3 linked regions of the Homo sapiens genome follow. The protein of the gene in region 3 purifies or fractionates together with the protein of the main gene of each other region. This does not show direct contact. Each region holds a gene or a part of one and is shown on either strand. Other genes may lie near its edges. The genes, in order: RAP1A, LETM1 and OR2T10.

Region 1 (3,500 bases), about 140 Mb from region 3:
GGCACTAAAGGAAATGAGATGGCCTGGGTGCAGTGGCTCACACCTGTTATCCCAGCACTTTGGGAGGCCAAAGACAGGAGGATCCCTTGAGTCCAGTTCAAGACCAGCTTGGACAATATAGTGAGACCCTGTCTCTACAAAAAATTAAAAAAAAAAAAAAGCTAGGTGTGGTGGTATGCACCTGCAGTAGCACCAGCTCCTCAGGAGGTTATGGTGGGAGGATTTCTTGACCCTGGGAGGTTGAAGCTGCAGTGATCTGTGTTCACACCACTGCACTCCAGCCTGGGTGACAGAGAGAGACCCTGTTTCAAAAAAAAAAAAAAAAGAGGAAGTGAGATGGATAAAGAAAAAAGTAGTGAGTAATGGAGGATAAGATGCTTGGAAATTAGATTAGAGAGGTATTATACTTATTGGTAATCACATAGCCTAGAGTAAAACCATGGTATGAATGCCTTAAAGGTAGGATGGACATCAAGGAAATGACAGGCCAAGCCAGGGTAGTAAATCATTTATAATATCCATATAGATTCTATATGGATAGTAAAATCACTAAGAATTCTGATTGAATCAGTGTATGTGAAAGAGAGAAAGCAAAAATCTTCAAAGTGTAAGGAGTGATTTTGAGACAAGATTATGCAGCTGTTTGTAAGGTTTTATGCAAGGTACTGGGGACACAAACAAGCAAATAGGCCTTATAACACAGCGTGTTGAGTGCTAGATGGGAGACAGACACGATATTGGATAGCACAAAGTAAAGATCTCTGTGATAGAGAACTTCCTTCTTACAATCTGGACAGAGAAAGAAGAATGCCCGTACACTGTGGATGTGATTTAAAAAAAAAAAAAGCAGAAAGTATTCATTTTAGCTATTAGGGTCTCTGGAAACAAAGGGGAATTCTGCTGATTCAGAAGCTAAAAACATTAGAGAGCAGGAGGGTGGGAGAGGGAGAGATAGCTTGATTCAGCTGATAGAAAATGTAGTTTCAGAAGGTCTTTACCAGAAGCTTGTTGTGAGGGCAAAGGTCCCTGATAAGAGTTAAGCCATTTTCCCAAAAAAGAATGGAAAAATACAGTATAATTAGTACTATATTGTTGTATAAAATCACTCCAATTTGCTTACATGCTTTTTTGAACTATCTGAAATGTTTCCATCATTTATAAAAATTATAGTGGAAAACTTTGTGCTGAATTTTAAACAACTTATCACATTTAAAAATGCCAGCCAGGTGCCATGGCTCACACCTATAATCCCAGCACTTTCAGAAGCAGAGCCAGGAAGAACACTTGAGGTCAGGAGTTCGAGATTAGCCTGGGCAACACAGCGAAACCACCTCTACAAAAAAAATTTTTTTATTAGCTGGGGGTGGTGGTACGTGCCTTTAATTCTAGCTACCCAGGAGGCTGAGGCAGGAAGACTGTTTGAGCCCAGGAGACTGCGGTGAACTATGATTGCACCACTACACCCTAGCCTAGGTGACAGAGCAAGACCTCGTCTCTTAAGCAAAACAAAAAACGAACCCATCCATTTTAAAGCTAAGAATTGCCTAATGTGTCAAGTCTATGTGCATGGAGAAAAATAAACAAAGAAAAGCAAAGATTGCTTAATGTATGTATTTTATGTGGCAGTATAACTGGAAACCATCAGTTATTAATAAAAATTATAAAGGTGATGGTATTAATGAAGAAGAATAAAAGCAAATACACAATTCCATACTGTGTAACAGACATTATGCCTAATGATTTATAATTATTAACTCATTTGCTTATCACAAACACCTTATGATGTACTAACATCATTATACTCATTTAAAGATTAGAAAAAGGAGGCTCAAAATAATTCTAAATCTTCTGAGGAAGATTTTTGCCTTCCTCAGAAAACATGTATCTGTCACCAGCCCCTTGAGATGTCAAAATGCTAGTGAAAAGAAAAAATTATAAAAATTAATGACTATGGTGCCAAGAGACAAGGTCTTATTTAAACCCATAGAAATACAAATATTAACTAAAGCTCTAAATTTAAAATAAATTTTAAAAAATCACTGACAGCATAATCCTTACCTCAATGTAGGAAGAAACCCAACACACAGATTATTACAGGTGAACTTTGTGATATGTGAGCATGAACTACATCAGAGTTGATTTCATATACTTAAGAATCCCTATGTTCAGAGAATTTCTTCTTAATCAGAATGATTACTTTTACTCAGAATTATCTGGATGACAAAACCTACTCAGATGACAAAACCTGCTCACAAATTAAAATCTATCAAAAAAAGAGAAAACATCCTTACTGTCCCTGCAGTATCCAGGATTTCGAGCATACACTGTTGGCAATCGACTTCAACTTGCTGTGGGGGCAAAAAAAAAAAAAAGGTTAAAGAGTAACATCAAAATCTCATTCTGTTTTCTTCCCACCTCTTCCATCAAAGTAACTATTAACAAATACAAAGCCTGTCTCCAGCAGTATGCTGTAATGGCTGGGGGTAAACTTGGTACCACAATAAAGAACAGCGGTCTCAAGTACAGTCTATTCATATTACAGAAGCCAAGATGGTTAATGCTGAGTTTAGATATTTTCTGACCTCTGTAACGATTCTTATTTGTTATTAGAAAAGGCAAAAGTCATATTTTGAAATTTAAGGAAAACTTCAACGAACAAGTATAGTTCTAACAGAAAAAAAAGTACATATGTGTATTTATATTATCTCCAAAGAAAACAAAGTACAAAAATATTAAATGGCTCAAAATGCGCACAACATTTTGGGGTAAAGAAAATCTTGCCAACTTACCATGTTCAAGTTGTTAAAATTTTACTAAAATATGCAGAAAATTAAATACACAGTAAAATCTGAGTTTAAGACATAAAAGAAACACAGGAGTACTAAAATAAACAGCAATGAGCTAAAACAGTGCCTCAAGAAAAAGGCACTTTTCTAGAAAAGCTCTATGTGAAAGGTGAAATTTTATACACTGAGTTCTATTTACCCATTGGTCTTATAAAAGAAAAGAAGGTTGGTCTAATGAAAGTATCAACTATCAACTGTGTGGAAAACTGTTTTAATAAAGAAGGGATTAAGAAAAGTTAGTCCCTTAGAATTTTAGGTACAGATCTTGCTTTGCAGTTAAAGCTTTAACTAGCAACTTACTTTGGGGAAATTTCAGTAGAGCAACACTGTCTTCTAAAAATAAATGTGCTAACCTAAAGACTATTTTAAACTCTGCTTCTGTGTCAGATCAGACATTGATGAGGGGCACCACTGGTCAGACCACAAACTCATCCACCCCACCACTTATGGGACAAGTGTGATAATCTGCAAAATTTGTAACTGGGAATGTTCAGTGAATAATCAATTAGGACTATAGTTTCTTGATGTATCTAGAGCATAATTCTGTTTCCAATTTGAAGACAATGAAACTGCTCTACTAGTAGTCCTTCATGAACTAACAAATTAATTCAACAAAAGTTACAGCACTATTAAAGGTAAATTCTAAAAATGTCT
Region 2 (3,737 bases), on a different chromosome or scaffold from region 3:
TTTTCACTGCCCAGTTACTCTTGTCCCACCTCCCCATTTGTCCTTTTTGGGAGGAAGTCGCTTTACGAGCAGAAGCAGGGCTGACTCCAAGGGCTGTGTGGGAGAGGGGGCCTCTGGCCTGAGCCGCCTGGGGACAACAGTGAGGGCTGTGTGGGAGAGGTGGCCTCTGGCCTGAGCCGCCTGGGGACAACAGTGCCATTTGTTGAAACTGGGGAGGACTTGGGGAGGAGCAGAATGAGGAGGGGCGCTAGTTGAGAGTTCTTGGAGGTGTGGACTGTGCCGTGCCCATCAGACCTGTGGGGCGTGTGTATTCAAGTCAGGGAAGAGATTGCCTGGGGAGGAGGTGGAGGTCAGGTAGGGAGGCTCTCCCAGGAGTGGCAAGGGTGAAGCCAGGTGAAGAAAGGTTTGTTTGTTCTTTGACCTGATCCTGGCACCAGCACTGAGGGCTGAGAACCCTGGAAGTTTCCTGAATGATGGGAGTGTCTTTTTTCATTTGTTTGTATTTTGAGACAGGGTCTTGCTCTGTCACCCAGGCTGGAGTGCAGTAGCTTGATCATGGCTCACCACAGCCTCCAAGCGATCCTCCTGCCAGCTGATGTTTTAACATTTTTGTAGACAGGGTCTCTGTTGCTCAGGCTTAACTCCTGAGCTCAACAGCGATCCACCTGCCTTGGCCTCCCAAAGTGCTAGGATTACAGGCGTGAGTTTGGGAGTGTCTTCTGTTATTCGTTATCACTGCACCTGAGTTTATGCTGATGAGGTGACTCCAGGCAGGCCCTTAGATAGATTGAGGTGCTGGCCATGCTGTGATTAGAGGGTGGGAACTTCCTGCCCCTTCCAGGGAGGCGAGAGGGTTTGGAGATTTAGTTCAGTCCCCATGGCCAGTGGGCCAATACTGTAATCAGTCATGAAGCCTTGATGAGAACTTCTGGGTGAGGAGGCTGGTGAGGCTTCCCACTGGCGTCCACCTAGCTCCACAGGACAAAGGATCCTGTGCTCGGGACCTCCCTGGCCATGCTGTCTGGTTGTTCCTAGGTACCAGGTACCCTTTATAATAAACTGTGACAGTAAGTAGAGCCCATTGCTGACATCTGAGTCATTCTTGTGAATGATCAAAACCAAGGCGGTCATGGGAACCCTCAAATGTGTGGTCAGCTGAAGTTGGGTAAGCCTGGGCACATGGAGTGGGGGCAGTCTTGTGGGACTGAGCCCGTACCCTGTGAGGTCTGCACTAACTCTGGGTAGTGTCAGTATGGAATTAAATTGTTGGACTCCCAGTTGGAGAATTCGTTGGTGTTGGAAAAAAGAACAGAAGGGCTCCCAGCAGGGCCTGGGCACAGATGACACCTGTGCTCGTGAGGGACGTGGAGCAATGATCCCCATCACCCCGAACGGCCTTGACTGGGGGTTCCTTGGAGAGCTGGGGACAGAAGCCGTCAGAACAGGTTTTGGGGAGAGCCTAGTAAGGGAGCCAGTGGGACAGGCAGTGTTAGAGAGAAGGTAGGGTCACTGGGGGACAGATCAGGGAACTCTGGGAGACCTGCCAGCCTGCCTGCTTGCCGGGCGGAGCCCTTGAGGCACAGGAGCTGGCCGGGGCAGGGGTGGAGGGGCTGAAGGTGCCATGGTGTGGGGAGGATAGCGGAGAATGCGCTGGGCCCTCTTCATGTGGAGAAAGGTGGGGGCCAAAGCTAGTCTCAGCTGGAGTGAGAAGGGCCTTGGCATGCTCACGTGTGCTGTGCTTTGAATTTTAACTTAAAATGTAACTTGCTGTGTATGAGAACATAGCCAACATTTTCCCCTTAACCCAGCTCCCAGTTCACAGACCGGACTGTTACAAGCCCTAAATGTGGCACGTAGTAGGAATTTCCTTCCCCACAGAACCAGGAGAGTTGCCTCCTGTTAAATGAGGTGAAGTGACGTATCGGTCCACTAGGAGCAGGGTCAGTGCCTGCCCTCCCCATCTTGTTCGTCCTCTCACGGTGGCTCTCGTTGCCGGCTGGAGTGAGCTCCCCCCATCTTAAAGCTGCACTTGCTGCTCCCTGGCTGTTGACTCATTGCAACCCCACTGCTTGGAGGTTCAAGGTCACTGGGCATCTCAGGGTGCTACCTGCTGGCTCCCGGCACCGCCTAGCCTCTGCACAGCCTGGCCTGGCACCTCCGTGGGCTGGTGCCTCTGGCCCTGCTGCTCCTATTCCTGTCTTGTTCCCAGCATGAAGTTTGATCACAATGGGCTCTGAATGTCAGTAATACGAATGAACTCTGACTTTATGCTTATAGGAACTAGAGCAAGTTAGGGAAAGCATCAAAAACATGTTGAAATCCTAAAAATGTGCTGTACACTTATCACTGTTGTTTATACAAGAAATGGCTTACTCTTGGTGTTTTTGTGGTTCTTCTCTTTTTTTTTTTTTTTTTGAGTGCAATGGCGCGATCTCAGCTCACTGCAACCTCTGCCTCCCGGAGGGTTCAGGTGATTATCCTGCCTCAGCCTCCCGAGTAGCTGGGATTACAGGCACCTGCCATCATGTCCGGCTAATTTTTTTTTATTTTTGTGGAGATGGGGTTTCACCATGTGGGCCAGGCTGGTCTTGAACTCCTGACCTCAGGTGATCCACCCGCCTCAGCCTCCCAAAGTGCTGGGATTACAGGCGTGAGCCACCATGCCCGGCCTGTGGTTCTAGTAATTCTTTTTTTTTTTTTTTTTTTTTCTGAGACAGAGTCTTGCTCTGTCGCCCAGGCTGCAGTTCAGTGGTGCGATCTCAGCTCACTGCAAGCTCCGCCTCCCGGGTTCACGTCTGTGCTGGGATTACAGGCGTGAGCCACTGCGCCCGGTCCGGTTGTAGTAATTCTTACAGCTCTTGCCCCTTGGGATCATTGCTTGCTCTATAGGGCTGTCTGCATAGAGGTCATGTTTCCACCAGAGCCAGCTGAAGTGAGTGGGGATGGTGCCACCGGTAGGAGTGCTCCCTCCCTAGGGCTGGCCTGCTTGGCTTCCCTCTTGGGGTGTCTGGAGTCAGGATCTACTTGAGGCTTCCCATCTTTTTTTAGGACTACTTTGAGATACTGTTTTCATAACTGGGGCAGACCCTTCACTTAGCAGTGCTCTGAAACCTTCCAACACTCAGAACTGGCTTCCAGAAACTTACAGAGGTTTCTACAAAAGAGATCTGTACTCTTTCAGATTTTTTTTTTCTTTTTGAGACGGAGTTTCACTCTTGTTGCCCAGGCTGGAGTGCAATGGTGCGATCTCAGCTCACTGCAACCTTTGCCTCCCAGGTTCAAGCTATTCTCCTGACTCAGCCTCCCAAGTAGCTGGGTTTACAAGCATGTGCCACCATACCCGGCTAATTTTGTATTTTTAGTAGGGATGAGGTTTCACCGCTGGTCAAGCTGGTCTTGAACTCCTGGCCTCAGGTGATCCACTCGCCTTTGCCTCCCAAAGTGCTGGGATTACAGGCGTGAGCCACGGCGCCCCGCCTTCTTTCAGACTTAAAAGAAGGTTTCAGGCTGGGAGTGGTGGCTCACGCCTGTAATCCCAACACTTTGGGAGACCAATGCAGGAGGGTCGCTCGAGGCCAAAAGTTGGAGACCAGCCTAGGCAACAAAACGAAACCCCGTCTTTACAAAAATTAGCCTGGCCTGATGGTGCACACCTGTAGTCCCAGCTACTTGGGAGGCTGAGGCAAAAGGATCCCTTGAGCCCAGGAGTTCAAGGCTGCAGGGAGCCGTGACTGTAC
Region 3 (2,594 bases):
GCTACAAAGTTCAGTCATGCAAAAGTGAATAATTTCTAGAGGGCTAATATACAGCATGGTGACTATAGTTAGCAATATTGTCTTGTATACTTGACATCTGTTAAGAGAATAAATCTTGTATACTTGACATTTGTTAAGAGGATATCTTAAGTGTTCTAACCACACCAAAAAAAAAATAACTGTGAGGTGATGGAAATGTTAACGAGCTTGATGGTGGTCATGATTTCATAATGTATGAAATATATGTACATAATGTATGAAATAATGTCGGAAGACACCGACACGCCGCGCCGCCGGAGCCCCAGTGCATGCTGGTTGCGCTGAAGGCGACCCCGCCCCAGAATGCACGGAGCCTCCGCCCAGGCCCCGGAAGGACAATGTGCCCGACAACTGGCGATGGCTGTAGGAAGCCATGGTGAGGCGGGGGATGGATGGAACCACCCTGGGCCCAGCAGCTGTGATTGGCAGGAGGAGCCACATCTTTCATTCTTACAGCCTCAGTCTCTCTGCATCCTTATACTTAAGGTGTCTGTAATCATAATATTGTATAATCTGATAATCTCAGTATTTTACTTGGAACATTTAGTATATTACATATTTTATTGATACATAATATTTCTACATACTTATGGGGCACATGTGATATTTTGATACATGCATGCAATGTGTAATAATTACTGATATAATTGGGGTTCTATGTGAGCTATAACTTCTAACCATATTCTATTTGGCCCATCTGTTTCACGTCTCTTTTTCATTCTTTCGTTGCTTCTTTTAGAAATATAAAAATCTATCATTTTTTCATTTTATAAACTTGTTTTGGCGTTTACTATAAACATTACAGCATGTACTCTTGATTTACTAAAGTTTAACACAAATTACTACCTCTACTACATCAATATTGATATATCTTCAACATGATTTTTCATACATTTAAGTTTTGCACAAATCTAAACTGTATATTACATTAAAATTATTGCTAAGTCAATATTGATTATGACTCATTTACATATTACTCTTTGGGGTTGATGTTTGTCATTTTTGCTTATATTTCTGAGTTTACTTTTGAGATAATTTTTCTATGGCTGAAGAATTTTATCCACTTTTGTTTGTTGGAAAAATTTATTTTACTATCATTTTTTATAATTGGAGTTAGACTCAATCTACATCTAGTTCATCCCTATTACTGAGACATGGTCCTACTGGACTCTTGATTGACAGGCTGGTAGATGTCCCTATGCTCTGTCTTGAAAGCATTTCTCCCAATATCAATGTGGCTCATTAACTTGTAAACTCCACATCTTTGCTCAACTATAACCAGTGAGGATTAGCCTAAATCCCTACATAAAACGTGACCCCTACACACTCCAAGACCCCTCTCCTGCTCAAGATTTTCCAACACTTTTCTTCTGATAATACTCCATGTCTTCTTCTCAATTACCAAATTTATTTTCTGTATACACCCTTTAAGTGCTAAAAAAGATGAAGATTTTTATTTGTTTTGCTCACTGATGTATCCTCAGTTTGTAGAACGGGGCCTGGCAAACTATAGGGGCTCAGTAGTTATTTGTTGAATGAATGAATGACTTGGGGCCTAAAGGAAGATTATGTAGTCATGGAAAGTTATCTTCGTATCCTTGTACTTACAGATAAAAAAACATTCCGAAGAGAGGGAAAGCCACGTGAAAACATTGGGTATGGAAAGAACTATAGTGTTTCCAAGGTTGGAGTATGGCCCTCCCAGAGGGAGAGGCAATGCAGTGTGGAAAAGGCCACAGACTCCACAAGACGTGGCACATGCAGTGGTCAGGGGCAGGGACTCCGGCCTGCCTGCCTGGGCTTAAATCCCTGTTGAGCACTTTATAAGCTGCACACCCTTTTGTTCATGTTACTCAAACCCATGGGTTTCAGTTAAATCAACTGTAGAATAAGGCTAATAATAGGCTGTGAAAATAAAAGTGTTCCATACATGTCACGCACTAAAAATGGTGCCAGATCATAATAATCACACAAGACGTTATAATTATTATGTTATTTGTTAAATACAAATACAACCATGCACATACGTAAAACTGTGATTTGAAATTATATTCTAAGTATGTGTCACCATTGGCTTGAACAGGGAGAAGTGTGCGAAACTTCCATATTTCTCTGGTTAAGTCTATGAATAAACCAATTATACTCCAAACATGTTGTAGCCCATGTCTACTGGATAGCCCATGTCTCTGCTCTAATTTTGGGAGGTTTGACTTCTTATATGCTCACAGAAAATAAGAATTTGATTGAGAACACATTCTAGAAATTCTGATGGAAGAAAAATCTCAACTGTACATTTAGCATCTCTGAGGTCTTGAATGTGTTTATCTCCAAATGCCTATGGATGAATGAACCCCCTTGTCCCTGAGGATCCCCTGCTTGGGGCAAGTCAGGGGAAGCCTCAAAGGCTGTTTTGTCATTTGTGAAATGTGGGTGACCTTAGCCTCAGCCACAGAGGGTGAAGGTCGAATGAGGTGGTGAACGAAAAGCGTTTAGCACAGAGTGGATGCTGAGGAACACTCTGAATATGGTGTTATTTCATACTCATCAATGGGCCC

The links.
Region 1: the proteins of OR2T10 (region 3) and RAP1A purify together in Homo sapiens (affinity purification with mass spectrometry; one large-scale study listed by BioGRID and IntAct). This does not show direct contact.
Region 2: the proteins of OR2T10 (region 3) and LETM1 purify together in Homo sapiens (affinity purification with mass spectrometry; one large-scale study listed by BioGRID and IntAct). This does not show direct contact.

The regions. Positions count from the first base shown.
Region 1 is NC_000001.11:111,696,289-111,699,788, reverse strand, and holds part of RAP1A (ras-related protein Rap-1A precursor), read right to left. Parts: intron 2,349-3,500; coding exon 2,292-2,348; intron 1-2,291. UniProt on the Homo sapiens protein: Counteracts the mitogenic function of Ras, at least partly because it can interact with Ras GAPs and RAF in a competitive manner. Together with ITGB1BP1, regulates KRIT1 localization to microtubules and membranes.
Region 2 is NC_000004.12:1,849,616-1,853,352, reverse strand, and holds part of LETM1 (mitochondrial proton/calcium exchanger protein precursor), read left to right. Parts: intron 1-3,737. UniProt on the Homo sapiens protein: Plays an important role in maintenance of mitochondrial morphology and in mediating either calcium or potassium/proton antiport. Mediates proton-dependent calcium efflux from mitochondrion.
Region 3 is NC_000001.11:248,589,912-248,592,505, forward strand, and holds the end of OR2T10 (olfactory receptor 2T10), read right to left. Parts: 3' UTR 576-2,594; downstream 1-575. UniProt on the Homo sapiens protein: Odorant receptor.